Linked DNA regions of Homo sapiens: all the other regions are linked to region 1. The links come from fine-mapping of genetic effects on gene expression. A gene starts in region 1. Each other region holds a variant in brackets. All regions are shown on one strand. Distances are between the middles of the regions. Region 1 holds the start of SMARCD3 (SWI/SNF related BAF chromatin remodeling complex subunit D3). Region 2 holds the start of DRC11L (dynein regulatory complex subunit 11 like). Region 3 has its middle 25 kb from the start of SMARCD3.

Region 1 (8,170 bases):
GGAGGACGGAGGGAGTGAGTGGGAGGGCCGCGTCCCTGAGGACCCCATAGAGGAGGGGGTGCTGAGCTGGGACCAGGCCTCACTCATGGTGAGCAGCCCCCACTCACTCGGTGCGGGTCTGCTTCCCGGCACAGCTCCGTCGCTCTGCTCCCTCCCTCTGTCCCCCTCCTTCCTCCCAGTCTGCCTTGGTTCCTGCCTCTGTCTTAGGAAATTCTTGGATTTCAGAGCTGGAAGGGCTCTAGGAATGCTCTGACTTAAGCCTCTCCTTTCACTTCTGAGGACACTGAGGGACAGGGAGGTACAGCGACTTGCCCAAGGTCGCACCATTATTTTGGTGTCCTAGTTTTTCTTTGTTTTTTGCTTCTATATATTGCATTTGTCTCTTTCGTGTATGTTTGCAAAAGTGACACAGAAAGACAAAGTCACACAGAGAGACAGCCCCCTTGATAGCAGCAGAGAGTGTCGGGGGTACAGAAACATCCCAACACAAACAGGGAAGCGCACAGCTGCCCTGGCCTGGAAGCAGCATGGGGGCAGCCAGGAGGAGGAGGAGGAAGGTGCCTGATGCCCCTGGCCTGGCTTCGGAGCGTCCCCTCTGCTGACCGTCACCAGAGGCGGGGGTTGAGGTAGTCTCCCCTCCTCCCTCTCTGGAGCTGGGCGTGACCCCAAGGACTAGCCAGAGGTCCCCCGAGGCTGGTGCTTAGCCCGGGCAGGTAGGCTGGATGGCGGAAAGTGGGGCCTGGTTTAGAGATGGCCAGAACACCGAAACCAAGGCTTTGTGGTCCTCACAGCGCCAAGTGGTCTCACTTTCTCCCTCTCTCTTTCTTTCTCTCTCTCCCTCTCCTCTCGCGTTCTCTCGCTCTCTCTCTCTCTCACACACACACACACACACACTCACTCAGGCCGCCCCAGTGAGGGTGATCGTATTCTCCTAAGGAGAGCTTTATTGCTGGGGGTGTAGGGAAAAGGGAATAGAGGAAAGAGCTCTCTCCCAAGCAATCCGTTCTCCCTCCAGTCTCGCTTCCTTTGTTCCTCCCTTCCCTTCCTCCCTATCCCCTCGCCAGCTTCTCTTCTCTCCTTCCAGCCCCTTCTTCCATGTTCCCCGCTCTCCTGCTCCTCCTGCCGCGCCCCCCGAGCGGAGTCCCCGTGGTGGGACCTTCACGGAGGGCAGGAGGGCGGGACTGCGGCTGGGGCCCGGCCTAGGTGGCCATCTTCCCGCAGGGAAGGAGTTAAGTCTCTTCCCCGCATCCCTCCTCCCTCCGCCGCCTCCCCGGCCGCCGCGGAGTCCTGCAGCTGGGCCCCGGGCTGACCTTCACCGGGAGGGAGGCCGCGGCGCGCATGCCCAGGCCGGGGACCGGCGCGGGCGGAGGGAGGGGCGGCGCGGGCCGGGCCGGCCCGAGCCCCCCCAGCTCCCCGGCCGCCGCCCGCTCGCTCGGGCGCGGTGGGGGCGAGGCGGCCGAGCCCGTCCCGCAGGCCGCGGCGCATCTCTCCCTGCGCGGGGAGCGGCGCTTTGCCATTTGGTGCTGGTGGTGCTTCAGCGAGGGAAGGAGCGATGGGGGGACGGCAGGGGGGACTGCGGCGCCGGGCGCCGGGCGGCCGCCCTCGCCCCCGACAGGCGCACGGCCTGCCCCAAGTGCGGCGGGCGCCCTATTGCGCTGGGAGGAATCCACGCTCTTCCCGGGCCTCCTTCCCACCCGCAGGAGCCATCGGCGGCGTGGCACACCGAGCGCCCTTCTGGGGTTAAGCCACTGGGGATCCTGGCCTTTGTGAGGAGGGAGCCCTGGCCCGGGCCCCCACACTGGCGCCGCCCCAGCTTTCTGGTCTGAAGGCTCCTCCTGTCGCCCACCTAAAAGCAGTACGCAAATGTGTCTGGGCCTGCCTTGTGAATGGGGCCCACCACGGGATGTGGAGGTGCTCAAGGTGTGCCTGTGTGTGCAGAGCCATGTGGCTTCCTCGACCTTTTGGTGCTTGTATTGGTGTGCCTGCTGTGTGTGTGTTGGGAGGGTGTGTGTGCAAGGTGTATCTATTGTCTGTGTACACTTAAGGATGTCTCCCAGAGGGGTGGCTCAGGAGAGCGCTTATGTATGGACTTGGGTGAAGCTCACCAGCTCCTCCACAGGGGCTTCACCATAGCCCCTCGTCTAACTACCTCCCGCAACCTCTTCCACCACCAAGACCAAGCCCGGGATCTCCCAGGCCCTGCCTCAAACTTCCCAGCTACCCAAACTGGAGTGCCCAGCATCTCCTCTGCTGTCTTCTTTTCCCAAAAGGTCTCTCCAATAGTTGAGAACACTGAGCTTTAACAAAGCCTAGGGGTGTCTATCTCCAACCCCCAGAACCTCCAAGGCCTGTGGTTTCCCATGCCCCTGCTAGACGCACCCATGGTGGGTGGGGGTGCCCATGGTAACTCACACCATCAGGTAAATGGCAGAGTACCAGCTCCATGCATTGGCTCATTAAGCTTTGCAAGCATCAGGTATCTGGGGTACTGTTGAGTTCCTGTGCCCAGGCATGGAGGAAGAGTGGGAGTTAAAGATCAGTCTCTGACCTTATGGGGACCTTAGCCTCTCTGGGAAAGCAAAGCTAATGTCCTTGAAGCACAGTGCACGTCAGGCCAGTCCAATGCCAATTCATGGTGCTGGGTAGATGGCAATGAGCATTTGGAGAAGAGAAAAATCTTTGCATACAAGTAGGACGAAGGAAGGCTTCCTGGAGGAAGTGGGGCCTGGGCTGGGCTTTAAAGAATAGGTGTGATTTGGACAAGCAGAGGGAAGGCAGAGGGCAGGCAAAGGGCATTCCAGGTAAAAGAATCGGGGGCAGGGGCTAAGAAATGGGAGTGAGCGGGGATTCTGGAGGTTAGCAGGCAGACTGGGCAAGTCACTTCCCCAGGTTCCCAGCAGCATGACCTATGGCAGACAGAGGCAGGCCACCCACCCATCCCCACCGTGTCAGGGCCCAGGCTCTGTGTGTGGGGGTGTGTGGGGGGTAGTCTAGGCTAAAGCCCTGGGAGAGATTTGGTAGCAAGGGGATCTCTAGGTCCCCTTTCAAGCTAGGGGTGGTGGAGGAGCAACCTGGACCAGATGTCCTCCCTGACATTTCAGATTGACAGTGGGCACCTAAATGAACAGTGACAGCCAAGAGCACAACCAGGGCCAGCAGAAATCAGGCTGCAGGCAGAAAGGACCCCCTGGGCAAAGGCATTCTGAAGGGTTTAGGGTCAGTACCCTTCAGTCTTCAGGGCCCAACTTCAAGTAAGTGTTTCAACAAACTCCCCTAGGCACTAGGCTATGGTCCTGCCCTCACCTGGATTCTCACAGTGAGGCCCCAGCAGACCCCCAAACTTGACCCAAGGGCCTTGTTCCAAAGCCCACGGCTCCTCCCCAAGAAGGAGAAAAAAGGGGCGTGGCCTTTGGGGACCTGGGTAGGCCCAGGACTCCCTGCCTGGGTATGTCAGGATTTGCCCCTCCTCCTTCCGGTCCCTCCTCCACTCCAGGGACTGCCAACTCCTTCCACACGCCCCTTCTGGGGCTCCCTTGCCACCCCACGCCACACCCCAGCCTCAAGACCCCTCTCTTTGGGGTCTTGAGGCCGGCCCAATATACCCACTATACCCAGCCCAGCTGCCCCAACTCCTCTGGGTCCCCTAACCCCACTCCACCCCCACCCCAAGGAAACCAAGCCCAGCTTGCCTCGTTCTCTCCACGCACCCACCCGAGCACCCCCCTGGCGCTGCGCCATTCCCCACATTCATTCTCTTCCTGTTCTCATGAGCACAATCCCTGTCCCTCTTTCTGAAATACTTCCCCTATTGCCCTCACTTTCTCACAGAGCGGCAAACAAAGACTCACATACCCAGAAATAGCCTCTCACAGAGCTGAAAGGCACAGGCCATGTCCTGCCACACACGCAGGCGCGCGCGCACGGAGGCTGTCGTGGAGGGAGGCACACATACAGGGCGTCTGTCTGCACGCACATAAGCTGCCACGCCACAAAAGGGCGCGGACACACACGGCGTGTGAGACAAGGGCACACACAGCAGTGGACGCAGGGCCACGCCGCCGCCCGGGCACACCCACCGCCGCCGGCCCCGGGCAGGCGCGAGGCCTCGCGGGCCGGGCTCCCCCGGTTCCTGCCAGCGAATGTTTCCCTGCTCGGCCTGCCAGGTCTCTGGGGAAAGGGCCTCAGAAATGCAGCAGGAGCCGCTGGGGGAAAAGTTGGAACTGACTGTTCCCTGCCTGGCGCGGCCGGCGAATTCCCTGACGGAGAAACTATTTGTGGCGAGAGCCGGTGGCCGGCGACCCCCCGCCGCCTCCCCTGGCGTCCCCTCCCCGCGCCGCCTCCCGCGGGCCTCGGCGGCTTCGGGCTGCAGCACTGCTGCCCAGCGCCCGCGGCCGGGCTGGTCGGCGCGCCTCGCCGCTTATCTGCGCTGTTTGGACAGCGGGCTTGGAAAGGCAGGCGGCCCCGTCCCCGCCGAGTCAACAGGCAGACCCCGGGCCGCCGGACTATTTCTGTCTTATCAGTGCAGGAATGCGGCAGCCGCGGCGGCGGCGGCGGCGGCGGGCGGGCGGCGGCGGCGTGGGCCGTGGGCCGTCAGGGCAGCCCTGAAGGGGCCCCCTCCCCACTCCGCTCGAGTAGAAGTGTGAGAGAGCCCAGCAGGACTCAGAGGGGAGAGTTGGAGGAAAAAAAAAGGCAGAAAAGGGAAAGAAAGAGGAAGAGAGAGAGAGAGTGAGAGGAGCCGCTGAGCCCACCCCGATGGCCGCGGACGAAGTTGCCGGAGGGGCGCGCAAAGCCACGAAAAGCAAACTTTTTGAGTTTCTGGTCCATGGGGTGGTGAGTGGGGGAAAGTTAGCGGGGGAGGGCAAGCGAGCTGGCTCGGGCTGAATGGAGGGCTGATCGGGAGGGGCCGGGAGGGCGCTCCCGCTCTCCCACCCCTCTAGTGGGGGGCGTCATGGCCCACGGCCCGGCCGCGGGACTGTGCTGGCGCCCTGGCACCCGAACACGTCGCCAGGCGGCCGGCCGGGTCTGACGCGAGGCGGGGAAGGGAGGCGTTTGCATGGCTCTTGTCAGGGGCGGGGGTGGGACTTGGGGACTCTACCCCCCAAGTAGGGGGTCCTCGCTGTAGCCGACAGGTTGACTTTCGTTCTTTTCCTTGTGGGCCCAGGTGTTGCCCCTGCCCTGGGGGTGGGGGTGGGGGATGGGGACATGGCAGAGGCTGGGCTGGGCTGTCTGTTCATCCGTTGGGACAGTGTCACTGCTTGTGTCTCCGGAGCAAGGAGCAGGTGACCCTGGAGGCACTGTAGCGGGAAGCTCGCAGGCTGAGCCACCTCTGCATCCCAGCGGGAGGGCTCTGGAGCTTCTGCCTTAGGGTGGGGGAGAGGACCGCTCTAGGGACTTAGCCCAAGTTAGGGGCTCTGAGGGTCTCCTTGGCGGACTCAGCCACCAGAAGCTGATGTCCTTAACTCCTCGAACATGTGAAGGAAGGGGCTGGAGTTGGGGACATGAGGCCTAGAGACCGAAGGGACAGGGGAGCACTGTCCTGCCACAGGCAGGCTGTGAAGGCACGTGGGAGCCCGGGAGGCTGGAGCTGAGTCAGTAGGGCCCGGCTGGGAGGGGTATGGAGGGGTGGGGAATGGGAGAAGCAGGGGCTGCGACTCTTGGGATGGGTGAGGGAGTGGAGGCCCTGTGTAGAGGAAGCTGTCGGGTTTACTATGGCCAAATTTGGTTGTGACCCCAAGGAAGACACCCTCTCAGTAAGGCCAGAGTCCCTAGGATTTTGGCCTTTCATGGGGATGGGGCTGGTGGCGGGCACAGCTCTCTGGGGGCTCTGAAAGCCTCCCTCTCAGGGCCTCTTCAGCAGATGGGCCAGTATCCCTGGCCTTGATAACTGGGGAGAGCAGCTGACAGGAAGAGGGGGACTCCCTGGAGTGGCCTGTCCTCCAGCCCCAGGGACCCCTGGGGGTAACTTCCCAAGGTGTCCATGTCAGCTAGCTGAGTTACCAGTCCTAACCTGGCTGCTGGTGGGAGCCCCTTTAAAAAGGCCCATCTAGTGGGGAGAGGCTGTACACGTGGACTGTTTTTTTAATCTGGTCAACTTACAGCTTCAGTTCTTGAGTGGCTGTGAGCCCCAGTGCCCCACCTAGCTGGTGGCCAGGCCTGGGCTCCATTCTGGGCTGCTACCCTGGAGGCCTGAGTGACAGGGTCAGGTGGGGTGAGGGAAGCAGACACATGGACAGGCAGGTTTCACTGCAGGAGAGATAGGCAGAGACAGCTGCTGACCGAGGGTGGGAGGACATTAGGGTTAGACACAGAGCCTGGAGGACCAGGAGGGAGAGGTAGCAGTTGGAAGGAAAACAGCAAGCCCAAGGGGGCCCCTCCTCATGCCTGGGGGTGAGGTGGGTGGTGTGTCCATGTTAACAGTGCCAGGGTCTGCATCCCCTGCCCTCTGATCTTCTTCCTGCTTTCGTGGTCCCAGTCCCCATCCCACCCCGCTCTTTCTGTTTCACAGCCCCTGAAACTCTCTCTGGCCCTCCCCATCTCCCTTCTGGAGTCTGGACAAGTGGGGTTTGGAACACTTCGCTCGATGCATTTGCATCTCATTTACACCCCATCTGACCACCCAGGGGTAGTGGCAAGGGAGGAGGAGCCGCCTCCTCTCAGTCTCCACAGCCCCCATGAACCCTGACTGCTGACCTCACTGGGGTGGGGATGGGAAGAGGAGGAGGTGGCTGCTGACCTGGGCAGACAGGAAGGGAAATGTGAGTGCAAGTGTCACTGCCCTGACCCACCCCAGGCCCCCCTGGGCAGCCCACCTCTAACGCAGTTCCCCTCCTCCCAATCAGAGAATCCTGGCTGTGTCTGGGGCGCCCCAGCAGGCTGCCCTTGCCTGCCCTGCCTCCAGCCCTCACCCTGGGAGCAAATTATGGGGGCAGCTTGGTCAGCGAAGACCCTGGATGTGGGGACTTGGAGTCAGCCGAGGGGAGTGGGGTTTGGGACCCAAGGGTCAAAAGCAGGGACACAGGGAGCAGAGTGGCTGAGATGAGCTAGTGAGTACCAGGCAGAACCGCCCAAGAAGTGGAGCCTGAGAAGGAGGAGCAGGAGGAGGAGCAGAAGTCGGAGCAGGGAGCCGGGTACCGGACCTCAACCAAGCCGCAGAGAGCAAAGCCCTGGGCCCCCAGGAGGCAGCCCTTCAGGGGCTGCCTGGGCCAGGATGAGCTGTGTGACCTTGGCGAGGTCATTTTTCTCCTTGAGCCACAGTGGCCCCATCCGTCAAGTGGGGATGAAAGGACCTGCTCAGGCTGTCTTGCAGAGGAGCATGTGGATGTGAACATCTTTGAAAGGTTGAAAGGCGCCATTAATATTCATTTTTGCGGTACCTTCCGCAGCCCCGAGGCTCGCAATGCCCTGTGCGGTGCCTGGCTTCAGTTAGCTTCCTGCAGCCAGACGCCAAGCCCCTCCGCCAGAGCCGCGCAGATTCCGGCGCCCCTGCCCCTCCTACCCATCGCTCCCACCCATCGCTCAACGCTCAGGGTCACCAGCCGAGGGTCTGGTGGGGGAGGGGAGACGCCGGCTCACCGCGCCTGGAGCGGGGGGCCCTGGTCTGACCCACGGGCGCCCGTTTCTGCTTCACCCCCGCCCACCCCCAGCGCCCCGGGATGCCGTCTGGAGCCCGGATGCCCCACCAGGGGGCGCCCATGGGCCCCCCGGGCTCCCCGTACATGGGCAGCCCCGCCGTGCGACCCGGCCTGGCCCCCGCGGGCATGGAGCCCGCCCGCAAGCGAGCAGCGCCCCCGCCCGGGCAGAGCCAGGCACAGAGCCAGGGCCAGCCGGTGCCCACCGCCCCCGCGCGGAGCCGCAGGTGAGTGGGAGGCCCGGCGAGGAGGGGGCGTGCAGGGGCGGGCCCTGGGGGACCCGCAGGGACCAGGTAAGCGAGTAGCGGGGATTGGAAGGGGCGAGGAAGAATGATTAGCAGGGAGCGAGGCTTCCCGGGTCGAATGCCCTCTGGGGAGGTAGGCTTAGGGGGCACCGGCCTGATTCTTTTGTGTGCCCACGGTAGAGACAGGCTGCGGCGTCGGCAGCCGGTACCGCTTCCCTGCACGCTCCCCTCACCCTTCTCCTTGTCACCTGCTCAGTCCTTCTCTCCACCCATCAGGTTCTGGGTGATGCTTCAGTC
Region 2 (8,170 bases), 42 kb after region 1:
TTCAAGGGCCTGAAGTATTTGTTCCCCCATAGGTGCTAAGTGAGACAATTGACTTTCTCCATTTTGCAATGGGCTTTTCTTCCCTTTACTGCTAACTCCCAAGACCGCCACGTCTGCTTTTCTGGTGAGCACCTATTGCTTTTCTGCTTCTCACCTCCTCCAGTGGTCTTCCTCCCTGTCAGCCTCTTCACCACCTGGGGAGCTTCTGCTATCTGCATCTAGTCCAGGCTCAGGCGTTTTGCTCATCTGCCTTCAGTCCAAGCCTCATTATACTCCGCTCACACTGATTCCACTCTACCTTTCACACCGTTTCTTTCTCTCATTCTTCCCAATTAAAGGATACATCCTACAAGGATACATCCTACAATGGGTATATGAAGGATACCCTTCATATACCCATTTGTACCAAGAAGCGGCCTCTAGCTACTCGAGCCCTCCTCACCATGGGTACCACCACTTTTAGCCCCTTCACCCTTCTCTGGTGGTTTGATGTGAACCAGTCTTGTCTCTTCACCTCCACTGGGGCGCAGTGGGGGAGGGAGCTTGCATTCCTTCTGGAGTCTGCAGCACTCTGAGCTGTGCTGGCACCTGTGTGCTCCGTGATTACAGGCTGGTGGGCTGGAGTTGCCTGAACTTTTAAGAAGTGCGTAAATACACTGGGAGATGGTTGGGTGGGGGAGGGGACCCGGTGAAGGGTTTCTTAATTCAGAGGGATTACTTGTGGGAGAGGAAGGAACAATTAGTCTCTTTTCAAGGTTAGCCCAGAGCATGTTCAGGATTGGGATTGAGTCACGCCCCTTACCTCCCACCTGCCCCCCCCCCCCCTCCCAGGTGCATGTCCCCAGCCACACCTGGTGGGGCAGCTGACTTGATAAAAAGTAGCTCCAAGGGGGTGGGTGAGGGCTATTCGAGAAGCAGGAGGATGAGCGCTGAGTATGGACAGCGGCAGCAGCCCGGGGGCCGTGGGGGTCGCAGTTCTGGGAACAAAAAGTCCAAAAAGCGCTGTCGGCGCAAGGAGTCCTACTCCATGTATATCTACAAGGTGCTGAAGCAGGTGAGTGCATAGCAAGGATGTGTGTGAGGGATGCCCTCACAAAGCGCCTTGAAAGGGCACTGGCTGGAAGTGGGGACCTTGAGGTTAGTGTTGGCACTGGGGCAAGTGGCTCAGGCAGGCCTGGCCCCTCTTGAGGTGGCGGGACCTGGTTTTTGAGGTCTCCACCTCTCTCAGGATCTTGGGCACCGGTGATAGGAGACAAAGCGTGCTCCCTGCCACCCTCCAGAAGTTTACGGGAACGATGATGAGATAACGTGATTAGGTGGGACATAATTAAAGGACAAGAGGACCACACTTTCTATGCCAGGCTGAAGGTGATCAGGTGCCAAACACATTATGATACAAAGTGTGTTGGTGACCGAGAAGAGGAGTGATCAGGGTGAACTGGAGTCTTGGGGAAGGTCTTCTGGACAAGTGGCACTCAGTTCTTTGAGGGGCTTAGGGTTTGTCCACCTTATAGACAAACAGCTTGAGGCCCCTAAAGGCTCCATGGGGTTCCTGCATCACATGGCCTGACAGTGGCAGTGTCCCAGTTCCCCTGGCTCTGGGCAAGCCCCTAGCATCCTTCCTGTGTGTCCGTCTCCCCAACACACTGGGGCTGCAGGTGCCCTATATTCATGCACGAAAAGCAGCTACTCCCAGGACTTGGAACACTGACAATCAATTTGTCTGGAGGATCCAAAGCTGCTGCTCAGCAGGGCCAAGGCCAGGAGGAGGCGGGGGTAGCCATGTGTTGCCCGCCCTGGGTCTCCAACCTGCTTGAAACTCTTACCCCTCTGTTAGAGCAGGCCCCAGAGGTAATGCCTGTCTCCAGTCCAAATCCCATTAGCGGTTTAGTGAATTGACAACCTGGGTGCCTGGGAATGCTCTTGTGGGGTTGGGGGTGGGTGGGTCCAGCACTGATATGGGTTGGCTGAAGAGATGCACCAGAGGACAGACTCTGGTGCCCTGAAGAAGGTGGGGTAGGAGTGGGTATCGCTGAGCCTTGTGTCTTAGCCCGACTTTGAGGGGCAAAAATTGCAACTGATGGGTGGGACAAGGCCTGTACTCACAGAGGAGAGTGCTGCTGAGGGCCAACCCCTCAACCTCCTGATCTGGGTGAGAGCTCTAAGGAGAACGGGGTGTGCTGACAGCAGAGGGGGTTTGGGCAGAACTAGCCTTGTGCCAGGTGCAGATTTGCTGCTGGCAGTGGAGACCAGAGGTGGCAGGGAGGGCGGGTGGGACAGAGCCTCCTGGTTCTAGTGCTGTTTTCATCTCTGACTCCATGTAGGTTGTGGGACAGTCACTTCTCTCCCACTTCACATCTGACCAGGTCTACCTACTCACATTTTAGAACTGCCATCAGTTCCCATTTGCTTTAGTAGAGATCACTTAGTTCAAAAGCTTGTGTGACAGAAGAGGAAACTGAGGCCCAGAGGAAAGGGCCGTATTTGAGGTCGTAGGGATTCACAGTACAGCTGCAGAACAGGACTCCTCCCCTGGTCCGGGGCTGCGACTGTGTCACATGGACAGGCTCACTGGTTATGTGCTCCACCAAGTTATATGCACAAACGTTTTGACACTACAGTCCCGCCTCTGGAAATAACCTTCCCTATGCTCGCACAAGATTCAAAGATGGGCATTTACCATAGCACCATCTAATAGCAAAAACAACAAAAAACACCCCAAACCCAAATCCTGAATATTCGTGAAGAGAGGAATGGTGTTAGGAAGTATGATACATCCATACCGTGGAACACTATGCAAATGCATCAGTGAAACCAGCAAGATGCATGTGTAACTGGTCCCATTTGTTAAATACAGATGCTTGTGTGTGCTCATACAAGGAGCTTAATCATGTTACCTCCTGCAGTTGAAAACTTCTTTTAAAAAACTTAGATATACCATAGCAGTACAAAGAAAACACAAATCCCTATTTCCATGACTGTTGGCCTCTGGGAAGGGGCTGGTGAGGAGCCTCCTTGCCTTCTGCCTCTGGCTTCCTAGAGCCCCCAGCTCAGGGCTGAGGCTTGCAGTGTAGGCAGGACCCCCCCTCCCCTGGCCCCTTCCATTAACCGAGTGGTGCTGCCCTCTCTCCAGGTGCACCCTGACATTGGCATCTCTGCCAAGGCCATGAGCATCATGAACTCGTTTGTAAACGACGTGTTTGAGCAGCTGGCGTGTGAGGCTGCCCGGCTGGCCCAGTACTCGGGCCGGACCACCCTGACATCCCGAGAAGTCCAGACGGCTGTGCGTCTGCTGCTGCCTGGGGAGCTGGCCAAGCACGCTGTGTCTGAGGGCACCAAGGCTGTCACCAAGTACACCAGCTCCAAGTGACCCAGGGCCTGACAAAAATAAAGGGTGAACTGTTTCTGTGCCCTGTGGTGATTTGAAAGAAGGGTGTGTGAGGCCAGGGTGTGGTCTGGAGCCAGGGTGTCCTCACTTCGAGGCTACCACAGGTGGAGCAGCACTTCTTCAGATGTCTTAGAAACTGCTTTCTAGGTGTATCCCGTGAGCAACGTGTGATAGCTTTGTAAACATGCGAATGTTCTATTTGGTAGTGAGCTGAAATAGGACCTGGGACTGGACTAGCATCTGGATTTACCGCCAGCTGATTCCCTCTTGGGGCCTGAAATTCCTCCTGTATGGTCCTCTTTCAGGCTGTGTCTTCGCGATGTCATTTCCCACCAACTGTCATTGCATCCTGTACGACAGGCACTGTTGTGTGAAGGGGCCACACAGATCTATTCAAGATATAAAAACTGAAGGCCCAGATCGGCTTCTAAATAACCTGCTGAGATCAGTATGATTTTTCAGTTTCCCCTTTATTTCGGAACAAATCAGTGGGGATGTTTTTGAAACTCCTAACATCACCAATTTTATTTGGAAAAATTTGAAACCCACAGAAAAACTGCAAGAAGCACCACGGCCACGCCTATGTCCTTACCTAGATTTACTGCTCACCACTTAACCACTTGCTTTTCCTGTCTCATGCAGCCTCTGCTTATCTTGTGGGCACATGACCCATAAATCCTCTTCCAAGCTTGGACAAGATGAAGGGGTGGGATTTAGACAAACCTCCAATCCTTTGTGCCGTTTGTAATTGGACAGACCTGGCTTGTGGTCTCCTTCATCTCCACATATTGAAAAGGCATCGCCTTGTAGTAATAGCTGACGTTCAGCGGCAGCTACCTAGGTCACGTGTATTTTCTCATACCTCGAGCCTCACCTTGAGGTTCTGTGAGCTGAGGACTAATGATCCACGTTTACATTCACAGTTAGCAAGAGGCAGGCCCAGGAGATCTGGCCCCAAAGTCTCACTCCTGCCCACTCTGCCCTGTGTTCACACCTTGCCCTACCAGGCATGACCCGGGCCAGCAGGAGCCAAAGCACCTGGGAGCTTGTTAGAAAGGCAGGCTCTTGGGTCCCCCCTCAGATCTGGAGCAGAATCTGTTTATCTATCTATCTATCTATCTATCTATCTATCTTTGAGACAGAGTTTCGCTTTGTTGTCCAGGCTGGAGTGCAGTGGTGCCATCTCTGCTCACTGCAACCTCTCCCCATCCTAGGTTCAAGCGGTTGTCCTGCCTCAGCCTCCCGAGTAGCTGGGATTACAGGCATGTGCCACCAGGCCTGGCTAATTTTTATATTTTTAGTAGAGATGGGGTTTCACCATGTTGGCCAGGCTGGTCTTGAACTCCCAACCTCAGGAGATCCGCCTGCCCTGGCCTCCCAAAGTGCTGCGATTACAGGCATGAGCCACTGCGCCCAGCCTGGAATCTGCATTTTAATGAGACCCTCAGGTAGCTCATAGGCACCTTCGAGTTCCTCCTCTTTGCTCCTCCTTGCCGCTATCTCCCTTCTGTCCGTTTCCCTGGCCCTGTTCCTCTTAGATTTACTTATTCATAAGCCTCGACGTGACACTGAGCCAAAAAGCTCACCCCAGCTGACCAGCCTCAGGCTGCTAGTGGTATAATATTTTGTCTTTTTGGAAAAATTATCTCCTGAACTTGTAGCAGTGACGGGAGGTGGTACCCACAGGTGACCAAGTAAGCCCCAAGCATGCAGAACAGCATCCACTATACTTTCTAGC[A/G]TGATGCTTCACACGGGTCTGGCTCATGGGAATGGTGTGAACTCTTGGCAGGCCCCAGGGAGGAAAGCATGGTTATGCTCACTTTCACCCAAGGGGGCAACTGGGACTTCAGGGCCTTCTGACTCCAAATCAGTGCCTTTCCCCTCCACCACATGGGCTTCCCCGTGCTGTCATCCAGAGAGTGAAGGAGGGCTGTGGGGCTCAGGAGGCGGGGGCTGAGAGAAGGAACAGAGGCCGCTGAGAGTGAGAAGCTGCGGTGATGCCTTGTTAGGGGGTAATGTCTTTAGGACAGATGTATCCAGAGCGCCAAAGCTTTCAGGGGACTTCAAATAGAAACTTATTTTACTTGTTCCTTACAAGAAAAATGGCCAAAGTTGGACAACATGTTCTGCCCTAAGCTTCCAAAGCTTGCTCTGCGGGAGCCTGCAGCCACCCACCCACAGTCCCTTCAGCGCGCTGCTCCCAGGACGTCCTCCGAGATAAATGTCCCCGATTCTGCACCCACCAGCCCCCTCGCCTCAGCCCTAGAACACTGGTACAATGGGTCAGAACTCTTAAAAACAGGCTGTTCTGCCCTGTGGCCCTGGAAGTCAGGGAGCCACAGAGGTTCTGTGAATTCCACCACCAGCAAACAAGGGGCAGCGTGGAGGAGTGGACACAATGTCTGAGGGGTGAGTGAGGGGCTGGAGTGGGGCTCCCAGGGCAGAGACAGCAAAGGGCAGAGCATCTCCTTAGTCCTGAGAGGCAGGGGCAGAGTGGCGGTTTGGGCACTGGGCCACCCCAGCTGCTGCTGCTGCCCTGGCAGCTTTCACTGTGGAAACTTCCCTCCGATGGTTAATTCCAGAACCAGGGCTCTGCTTGGGGAAGGGTCCCTCCTCCACATTCATCCCTCACCCCCACTTCCCATCCACCAGCCCAGATCACTGCAGCATCCGTGGGCTGCCCCACACCTGGAGGGCCCCACTGCCCCTGACTCCCAAAGACCCCTTCCTTACCAGAGCCCCAAGCCTGGGCTGGCTTTCCCCCAAACCCCCAAAGGTCATGCCCATTCTCTCTGCTAATCCTACAGCGGAGCCCAATCCCACACTCTCCCTAAGACCAGGTCGGTGTCCACTCATTGCCCTGCGGGCTCCTTACCTCATTGAAGTCCATTTAGGAGCCATGAGTGACATCACACCTTCTGGTACCCCGAGCCCACACTCCTCAAAAGGCCAGGCTGCTCCGTCTCCCCACTCCTCCGTGGCTCAGAGCACGCGGCGCCCGCCACCCTCTCCCCAGAGCTTACCAGCGCCTCTGGGAGTCCTCCCACGCGACCCTGCAGGAGCTGCTGGACCAAGAGCAGCTTCTGCTCGAACCTGCGCCCGACCGGGAGCGGCAGTCCTTCCAGTACAGGCTCGCATCGCTCTACCTGCACTACCTGGGGCTGCTGCGCCGCTTCGACACCGTCTATGACCAGATGGTGCAGCCGCAGAAGCGGCGGCTGCTGCGACGCCTGCTGGACGGCGTGGCGGGCCGCGTGCTGGAGCTCAAGGACGAGCTGGTGCGCGCCGACCTGTGTGAGAACCACTGCCTGGACCGCGTGCTGCAGGATTTCAAGCTCACCCCAGTACGTGTGCGCAGCCGCGAAGCCACGCCCCCAGCCAGCTAGCGGGAGGGGAGAGGTGGGGTGGGACCGGCCTTGACCACCTGGGACACAGAGCCACGCCCTGGCCAGCTTGGGGTCGGGTGGGGTAGGGATGGGGCCGACCACCCCTGCCTACCCGCCACCCCACGGATATCCCTGGTGTTGGGACAACTGCTAGGAAAGGAAGGAGGGCAGAGAAGATCAGAGGATGGGGTTTGGCCTTGTAGGAAGGGCTTCAGGAACCTTGGCGGTGGGGGGTGTGCATGGAGGTACTTAGAGGTTGGATGGAGTCAGGGTGAGGTCCCCTGCATGACTGGGAAGACCCACGAACCGCAGGGAATTGGTGAGGAGAGTCCTTTAGAGCCTCCTCAAAGTGTGGTCCCTGGACCAGCAGCATTGACATCACAAATGAGAAACTCTGAATCCCTAACTCACTAAATCTGCACCTGCATTTTTATCAAGACCCTCCAGTGATCTGTGTGCACGGGCAAGTTCTAGAAGGCTGTTCTAGAGCACAGAGCTTCTGCGGCGCCTCCAGTCCGGCTCAGGGTTCAGTAACTGCTTCATATCCAAGACTATCTCAAAGTTTCCCCAACCAGCTGCAGCAGTGCACTTGGTCGGGGGTGGGGGCGCAGGGAAGATTCCCCAGGTCCTGTCATTCTGATGTAGTAGTCTGAGGAGGACCTAGGAATCTGCATTTAAGAGCTTCCCAGTTGATTGTGATGCACAACCAGGTCTGAGACCACTGCCACCTACCATGAGCCTCCAGAATTCAACTCCAGCCAGAGGATGGGGGCAGAGGAAGAGAGGAGTGGCTCTTGGGGGTATCTGCCCCATTACCCTTTAAGTTTAGTCAGGACTCTAAAATGGAGGAAAACAGTGCTGGGGGTGTGTAAGCCCCTAAAAATGGTAACGGATCGGCCAGATGGCTCAGACTTTTGATTCCTGACCCTCCTCCCCCAACATTGCTCCAAAGGCTGACCTGGAGGTTCCAATCCCCAAATACTTCCTGCTGGAGCAGTCCACCACTGTGCGGGAGCGAGGGCTGATACTGGCCGAGATCCTGTCCAGACTGGAGCCAGTGTCCTCCCAGAAGGTAAACGGGGGTGACACCCTCCCAGACTCTTCCATACCCCATCTCCTGAAAGACTCCAGAATGCAGAGAGGCCCCTCCCTGCTCTCTACCAGAGTGCCCTTTAGGTAATCCCTGGCCTCCTTCAAGGCTGTTCTTCTGCTGATGGTAACCCTCCAACGCCAAGACAAGACTTGGCCTCCCAGATACTCTGGGAGGATGGTGTCCTGGTGCATCCTTTGATGGCTGGTCTCCCAGCGGCCCACCCTGGATGCAAGCTCTCCCTCATGTGCTCCTGCTCTTTTGCCCCTGCTCTGGCCAGAGCTTTACAGGAATGCACCGGACTGA
Region 3 (8,170 bases), 25 kb before region 1:
ATACCCCTAGTGTTGAAGGTGTGACCTGGCCTGGGGGAGAGGCTGGATATCGGCAGGGGCAGAGACGGGAACCTGAGGGAGAAGGACCTGACCTTGACCTCAGCCTCAGACCATGGGTCCCTGCTGCCTGCCTGCCTCCTACTGGGGGCCTACGAGGCCCACCTGGCCCCAAATGCTTGGCAGGCTCCCTGCCCGCTGGCTGCTTAGGGAGGTGCTCCCACTTCCCCCGCCGTTGCCTGAGCTCTCTAGGGCTCCTTCACTCTGCAGGTAGGCTGGGGTCCCCCTCTGTGCTGGGCACTGTGGTAGCTCAGCCGTGTGAGGCGGGGCCCTGGAAGAGCCCATGAGATGGCCAGAGCTGGGCTTGTCTGGCTGGAAGCTGGGAATAGGCTTCTCCAAGCTGCCAAATTTAAGTATTGAGTACATAAAAGGAGGAGATTGGCATTAGTGAGAACATGGCCCTGAGGCTTGATGGACCCAAAGCCTCCCAGGGTATGTGCGTTTTGAGGGGGTGGGGGGTGCACATGGGTGTCCGGGACCTCGTCTAGGTAATGTCTGCAGCCACATAGGATGATCTGACTGAATCTGTGTGAGGACAACCGTTTGTGTGCCTGTGTGTGCGCGCCCACGTGCATGCGCGTGTGTGGTCCTAGTGTAGGTGATGTCTGCGGCCACACAGGATGCTGACTGCGTGTGTGACTCGTGGGCGTGCAGATGCAAGCACAGGCCTACGACACATCTGTGTACAGGCTGAAGATCACAACGGGTCTGGCCAGGGCCCGCCGAGGGCCTCCGAGCTGGCGAGCACACCGACGGCTGGATGGGGCGACGCTTCCTGCTCCGGTCCCTAACTCATTATTAAGCTCCTCGCTCTTTGCAGACGCTCCCTGCGCCTCCCCCGCTCCGGGCTGCAGCGGCGCAGGCGCCGGGCCGAGCCGAGCGCCGAGCAGGGAGCGGGCGGCCGCGCTCCGGGCCGGGGTCCCGGGGGAGCAGGTGAGCGACCCGCGCCGCGCGGCCCCCACGGCCCTTGGCGAAGGCGCCTCCCGGCCGCGCTGCGCCGGCGCCCCCGCCTTCCCTGCCTGGCAGTCTCTGCTCGCCTCTGTTGGCATCCTCCTCCTCCTCCTCCCCCCTGCCTGGCATCCCCCTCCTCCCCCTGCCTGGCATCCCTTCTCCTCCCTGCCTGGCATCCCTTCTCCCCCTGCCTGGCTTCCCCCTCCTCCCCCTGCCTGGCTTCCCTTCTCCCACTGCCAGGCATCCCCCCTCCTTCTCCTGCCTGGCACCTTCTCCTCACCTGGCACTTCCCCTCCTCCCTACCTGGCATCCCCTTCTCCCTTCCTGGCATCTTCCTCCCCTCCTCCTTTCCAGGTATCTCCCCCCACTCCTGACTCTTTCCGTCCCCCCGCCTGGCACCTCCCTCCACCCCCACCCCAACCTCGTACCTCTTCCTCCTACCCCTTCCTTGCACCTCTTCCCTGACTGGCAGACTCCCATTCAGCCCCTCTGTGACACCACCTCCTCCCCATCGCTGCCTGGCATCTTCCCCTCCTTCCCTCTCCAGTACCTTCCTATCCTCCCTCCACCTGCATCTCCCCTCCTTCCCTCGTCTGGCACCCTCCTGCCTGGCACCTTCCCCTCCTCCCCCTGTCTGGCACCACCTCCTCCCATTGCCTGTCACCTCCCCCCTGCCGAGCACTTTCTCAACCTGCTCCTGCCTGGCATGCTCTGCTTCCTACTCCCCCTGTCTGGCACCTTCCCTCCTTCCCCTGCCTGGCATCCTCTCCCTCCTTCCCCTACCTAGCACCTTCCCATCATTCCCCTGCCTGGCACCTTCTCTGTCTCCACTTGGCCACCGTCTTCCCTGGATACCCCTCTCCTATTCAGGTTGTCCCTCTGTCCCCCACCTTCTTGCAGGGCACCTCCCCCCCGACCCTGGACTGGTAGCCCCTCCCCTACCGCATCTTCCTCTCCTCATCCTCCCCTCCCACTCTGTCTCCCGGACCCCACCAGCTCTCCCATCCCCAGCACTCCCTGTCTCCAGCCTCCTCCTTCCTCATCCCCTTTCCTCCCAACCCTGCTCAGGATTGATCCATGGGCAGCAGCCTCTTTTGCTCACATGGCTTAACCAGACCCTGAGCCACTCCCAAGCCCCACCTCTGTCACCCACACCCCGCTCCTACAGCACTGCTCTCTTCTTAGCTCCCATGCCCCACCGTCTGCTCAGGGACTTCATTTCATAAGTTGGGTCCTGACCCAACGAGCTGGAGGCCTTCCTGCTCTTCCAGCAAGGAAGGAAGCAGGGCAGGACAGGACAGAGCAGGCACTAGCAGGGACCAGGAGGGAGGCGCCTAGGCCAGCTGGTAGTCATGGAGCAGGCTGACTACCTGCCTGCCACCTCTGGAGTCCCTCCATGCCCCTGGGCTCCAGGGCCATCCCAGTTACCATCCTGACCTGCCCTCTGGCCTTTGCCTCCAATGCCCAGCTCTCTCCCTCCAACCATTGCCACACCCCCAAAACTGGCCTCTCCAGTCAGGGCTTGGGCTCTGCCTGGGGTCCCTGCTCTGTCTTTCAAGTTCTTTGTCCCGCAGGACCCTGGGGCCGGTCTCTGTCTGCTTCCCACACATACTGCTCCCACCTGCGCCCTGCCTTGTGCCACCCCAGCCCCAGCTGGCCCATGCTGGTTGCCTCCATCCTAGGCCCTTTTTTCTGCACAGTGTCCTGGCTTCCTCAGACCTCCACTCCGGGGAGTTTGGCTTCTTCGCAGCTTCCCGAGGCCTCCTTGAATCTACGCTGGGGCTCAGGGTCTGACCTCTCCTTTCAGATCCTCAGAATGGCCCTTGGTGCTGCAGGCGCGGTGGGCTCCGGGCCCAGGCACCGAGGGGGCACTGGATGACTCTCCAGGTGCAGGACCCTGCCATCTATGACTCCAGGTCTTCAGCACCCACCCACCGTGGTACAGGTAGGTGCTTCCTCCCCTGCCAGCCCAGGAGCAGAAGCTCTGGGGCCCCATGGCGAGTCGGCCAGCCCTCGGCTCCTGCTCCCACCACATGGCCCCCTCCCGGCATTTCTGCCCCCAGCTGGACTCCTTAGTGCCCATGGCAGGGCCTCTCTGTCCCTCTCCCCACCCCTGCTGACACCTGTCATTAATGTCCTTCCCTCCATCCCACACTCCCTTTCCTGCGTGTCCTCTCACCTCCTGGTGTCCTTAGGTCCTGCCTCTCAAAGCCTTTCTGAGCCAGGGACAAGCTACCTGAAACCAAGTTTTGGGTTCATGTGAGCATGGTCTGGGCTCTGGCATGCTCTACTTCCTCCCCACCTAGACAGCCAGACAACACCCCATCTCCTCTCACTGCGTACATGAAGAAGCGTGCACATACGTGCACATGCTCACATGCACACACACCACATGCTCTCTGCGAGCTGGAAGGAACCTGCTGATTCCTTGGCACAACTTGTGCTCAGAAACCTCTAAAAACCCTCAGGGCCCCAGGCAGGGTTCCGCTTGTGGCAGGAGGGAGGTGGCAGCCGTCTACTGCACAGCCCGCAGTGGGAGCCAACCCTGCCCTGCCCCAGGCGGACCTCTAGCTCTGATGCACTCTGGGCCATTGCTTGCTTGTAGGGCCTTCCTAAGCCTCCTCCTCAAGGAGTGAGAGGAAGATGGTCTGCATTTGTCCGCATCAGTCCCCACTTGTCCAGAAGGACACACTGAGGCTCTGGGCAGAAAAGCCACCTGCCCCAGAGCCCCAGCTGGCATGGTAAGGGGTCGGAACTGAAGTCTGGTCTGAGCTCTGCCTGCCCAGCCCCACCCATCATCACGCTGGCTGGCCTCACCGGTGGGAGGCACCTGGCAACAGGGTGGGTACTGGCAGGGCCTCAAGGTATGTGGAGCCCAGTCCCTGTCCTCAGGGCCTGCGGCCTTGGAGAGCAGCCTTGACAATTGGGCACAAAGGGCCACAGACCACACAGGCCTCAGAGCACTGAGGAGGGAGACATCAGGAAAGTCCTGGAAAGGTGCAATTGGAAATGGCCCAGAGGAGCCTGAGGCTCGGGGAGGCCTGGGGCTGTGGGCAGAATGAAAGTGCTTTCTCTGCTTCTCCTTCCTCAGAAGTGGGCAGAGGAACTCATCCTCCTGCCAGGCTGCTCTGAAGGCCAGGGACAGCCCC[G/A]TTCCCCTTCAAACTGCCCCAGTGCCCCTCCTCCTCCAGTGAGGTGCAGGCCCAGGGCAAAATGGGGCAGGGCACCGGCTTTTGGGGAAGCTGGCCTGGCCCAGAGGATCCAAGCCACACAGGGCAGCAGCAGGCACCAGTCACCTGGTACCCATCACCAAGGAAACACACCTGGTGGCGGCATGCCCAGCCCCACACCTGAAGCCCCAGTCCACCTGCAGGAAAGTCAAGGCCTCCAAGCAAACGTCCCACCCTTATCCCCAACACCTCCCCAGCACCTGAGGTGAACTGGGGACTGGTTGCTCAGTTTGTGGTGGTTGGTGTTTTAGCTGAAATTCATAAAGAAAAGGTGAGAACTAGTATATTAAACCAAGCACTCTACAGTTCTGGGGTGTCTGAGGTTAGAGGCCAGGTTGAACGGGGGGCAGGCTGATGGGAGGCAGCTAAGCTTCCTGGAGGGGTGCACCTGAAGTGGTCCCCCACGTGGAGAGTCCTCCTAATATTTGACATGCCCTTCGTTAGGCCCTAAGGGGCTCCCCAGCAGCAGTCGGAGGGAGCCTTGGGCTGTTCCAGACCTTTCCTGAAGGGTCACTGCAGGATGGGCACAGGGGAAGGAGGGCAGAGGAGGCCTGTGAAGATTGGAGCTGGAGCCCTGGGGCAGTAGGTCCATCCTAGTGACACCTGGCCCCAGAGTGACCCTGGCCATGAGTCAGAAGCCCCAGCTCCAAGAGTGACAAGGTGGTGGAAGTTTGGCATCTTATCTTGGAGTTGCATTCACATGCAATCGGCGGTGTGCGTTGCAGGCTCTTGGCAGCCAGGCAGGCACTTGGGCATTTGGATGCTGACAGGCCCTGGTGCTGGTGCCTAGGCGTCCGTCCTCACCCCAAAACTGGCGGTGTGACTGCAAGTGAGTGCTCATGATTAGTGAAAATTAAGTGGTGGAGATAATGAGCTAGAGGTGTCACTGGGAGGAGGCTGAGCCACCCATCGGGGATGAGTGGACTTCCCTCAGCTGTGGCTGGACTCCTAACCATCTGGAATTGCTGTACCAGAGGGGCCAAGCTGAGGCCACCGCCTGCCTCTGACGGGTACTTGGCTGAGGGACATCTTGTAGGGACCATTGCTGTGTCCCCCTGTGCTCCTTGCTAATGAGGGGTGTGGGAATCCTTGGTGACTCATAAAGGACCGTAGAGGAGGGCTGATCACTTCAGCCAGGCCCACATTTTGGGATAGCGCGTTCGGTTTCTTGACTTTCCAAGCTGTGACACCGATTCTTGGCACTCTACACTTACTTCCAGGGATTTGAGAACGTGCCTCATGAGCGTGCGCCCCACACAGGCCTCCTACTGCAACTTACAAACTTGGACCATCTCCCATGTGAACCTTTTTCCCAGACTGAAGATCGTTCTGGGAAAATGCCCTAGAGTGAGGGACACTGTGCCATAAGGGAGGGAGAGGAAGACACAGGGAGGTGTTCTTATGCTCCGCCTCATCCTGAAAAGGGTTTCAGGTAGTTTGCAAAGATACATATAGTGAGGAAACTGAGACAGAGATAGAGTAGAGAAAACATGGTGTTGCCTAGGATGTGGCTACTGCACCAAATGCAAACCACGAGGCCCAGAGACCCCGATGCCAGCAGAGAAGCAAGCAGTTACATGATTTACACTGTGCATGAGATAAAAATCAAACAACTTGCTCAAATCACGTGATTTCTGGTCCCGAGCCACTGGGAGGTCTCTCCTGTATGAGGAAATGAAGGGGATACCATGTGACAAAGTTATGCAATGTTCTCAACAATGTCACAACTGCTTCCTAGGGCTAAGGCAAGGACCAACACAATACTCCCCAGCCATAAACCTACTGGTAATATTGCTTAACCCAAACTTAAAATTTGGAGCAACTAGAGGAATGCATTGCTACCTTCAGGAAATACCCTCTTTCTCTTTTGTAAGAGACAGAGTCTCACGCTGTTGCTCAGGCTGGAGTGCAGTGGTGTGATCATGGCTCACTGCAGCCTCCAACTCCTGGGCTCAGGCGATCCTGCTTTAGCCTCCTGAGTAACTGGGACTACAAGCGTAAGCCACAATGCCCCCTAGCTTTTGTTTGTTTTGTTTTTATTTTAGTAGAGATGAGGTCTCACTATATTTCCTAGGCTGGTCTCAAATTCCTGGGCTCAAGCAATCCTCCCACTTCAGCCTCCCAAAGTGTTGGGAGGCATGAGCCATCGAGCCTGGCCAGGAAATACTCTCTATATTGATATTTACAACAATGTTTCTGATAAATATCAGGCAGCAGGAAGGTTTATTTAAAATTGGAAATTAAGTACAGAGTCACATTCTCCAGGTAGGGGTAATATCCTTATAGGAAATAAAGAGCTCCTTAAGCACACAGGCCCCACAGGTGAGTTTGGGTATGAGGAGGGACCAGTCCTGGTCTTTCCCCACAGGTCCTGAACCCATGGAAAAACAGGCACAGGCATCAGTTAACTTAAGTGCAAGGAAATTCAAGCTGAAGAGAGGCTTGAACCTGAGGCCCAAGTGTAGAAGGCAGGTCCTACTCCCTAACCTGGGTTTGCTTACCTGGGCATGGGAACAGAAGGAGATGATCTGTGTCCTAAAACAGACTCGTCTAGAAGAGGAATGCTGGCCACAGGGTAAGCAGCCTTGCCTTCAGCACCTTCACCCCACCCGCCTGGGAAAGGGATTGTGCGGCTGGTGCAGGCCCTCACCACCTCATCAGACAAAGCCTCCTCCCACAGGGAGGAAGGGTGGGGAGAGGGCCAGGGTCATTCCAGTATCTCCTCTCCTGGGAATACAGTACATGTTTCCTTGTGAACACATGAAGACAAGGGAGTAGGGCCCCTCTGCAGTGGGGTGGATGGGCCACATTGCTAAACAGTGATATTGAGGCTCAGGTCCAGACCTGAAGTGACCAAGTCCACCCCCTTTCTTACCTCTCCATTGGAACAACTGCCACATCCTTTTATTTGATTTTATTTCCTAGATAAGTGTCAATTCCATCTGCTTCTGATTTCCCACGTCACTGCCCTGGTCCACACACTGTGATCTTCTGCCCCCATCTGAGTGCCGCATACTCAGCCTTGTCCCTGCATCAGACCCCGGCCCAGCACAGTAACGAGAATGGGCTTCCTAAACACAAATCTGATTTGTTCCGCCTTCCACTTCCTAGTGGCTTCATTCTCGTGCCCTCACTCAGGGCCCTCACACATGCTGTTCCCTGCACCTCCGACACCCTTCCCAGCTCCCTTCACCTGGCTAACTGCACTCATCCTTGAAGCCTCCACGTCAGTTCCACCTCTTCCAGGGAGGCTTTCTCCCACCCGGCTTGGGCGTGAAGGCCCACCCACTCTCTTCTGTCTTGCAGCACCTACCAAAGAGGCTAATACTGAGTTGCAGGGCTCCTTAAAGGCATGGCTGCATCTGTCTTGTTCCACACAGTACAGAGAAGTATTTCTTGAATGAATGAGCAAATGTGTGAGGCAGTGGACAGAGAGGGGGTGGCTCTACGGCTGATTCTAAAATGAGCCCCAGATCCCTCTTGGTGCTGTCAGCCTCACCCTCTCTACACCACCACGATGCAAGAGTGGGCCTTTCTTGCCTGCCAACCTTGTCCTGCTGTCGCCTGAGCTGCCCTGTGCCCCGCGTCTCCCTCCTGTAACTCCGTGGTTGGAGGAGTGCTCCATGCTCATTCCCTCTTCAGTTATTCCTATGGTGAGGGAGAATGTCACTCCCTCTGACCTTGGGTTTGCCTTTTGGAGTTGCAGGGAGAAACCCCTTTCTCCCTCCAAGCCATCTGACCACCTTTCAACATTTGGAGGCAGCTTTCGCACAGGCTCTGTCTCCGCTCGGAACATCCAGCTCTGGCTCTTTCAAATATTCCCAGCCTTCGTGCCCCCTGGGGAGCGCTGAAGATCCCCCAAGGCCATGGCCCACACTTGGAGCCACCTGTGCCTGTGCTAGAAGGTGAGCTCTCCCTTTCCAGCCAGGCAGATG

Evidence for each region. PIP is the estimated chance that this variant, and not a neighbour inherited with it, causes the effect.
Region 2: its variant is fine-mapped to the expression of SMARCD3 in whole blood (TOPMed, PIP 0.99).
Region 3: its variant is fine-mapped to the expression of SMARCD3 in whole blood (TOPMed, PIP above 0.99).

Annotation. Positions count from the first base shown.
Region 1 is chr7:151,245,145-151,253,314 of GRCh38, reverse strand. It overlaps SMARCD3 (SWI/SNF related BAF chromatin remodeling complex subunit D3), which reads left to right and starts at 4,621. Exons shown (of 13, transcript NM_001003801.2): 1 at 4,621-4,830; 2 at 7,644-7,855. The coding sequence starts at 4,753. RefSeq lists enhancers at 191-1,100, 6,380-6,953, 6,954-7,528, 7,529-8,102, 8,103-8,170 and silencers at 3,961-4,050, 6,098-6,392, 7,467-7,546, 7,567-7,866.
Region 2 is chr7:151,203,071-151,211,240 of GRCh38, reverse strand. It overlaps DRC11L (dynein regulatory complex subunit 11 like), which reads left to right and starts at 5,745. Exons shown (of 19, transcript NM_001304419.2): 1 at 5,745-5,797; 2 at 6,405-6,732; 3 at 7,727-7,846; 4 at 8,145-8,170. The coding sequence starts at 5,787. ABCF2-H2BK1 (ABCF2-H2BK1 readthrough) reads left to right here. Exons shown (of 17, transcript NR_160983.1): 16 at 33-124; 17 at 3,134-3,404. It overlaps H2BK1 (H2B.K variant histone 1), which reads left to right and starts at 753. Exons shown (of 2, transcript NM_001369125.3): 1 at 753-1,054; 2 at 3,134-3,404. The coding sequence starts at 923. The coding sequence ends at 3,370. The variant A/G (reference allele first, on the strand shown) is at 5,127.
Region 3 is chr7:151,269,897-151,278,066 of GRCh38, reverse strand. It overlaps a transcript of SMARCD3 not described here. Among named protein-coding and RNA genes, the nearest start is that of SMARCD3, 25 kb to the right of the region's middle. RefSeq lists enhancers at 1-444, 2,598-3,397. The variant G/A (reference allele first, on the strand shown) is at 4,158.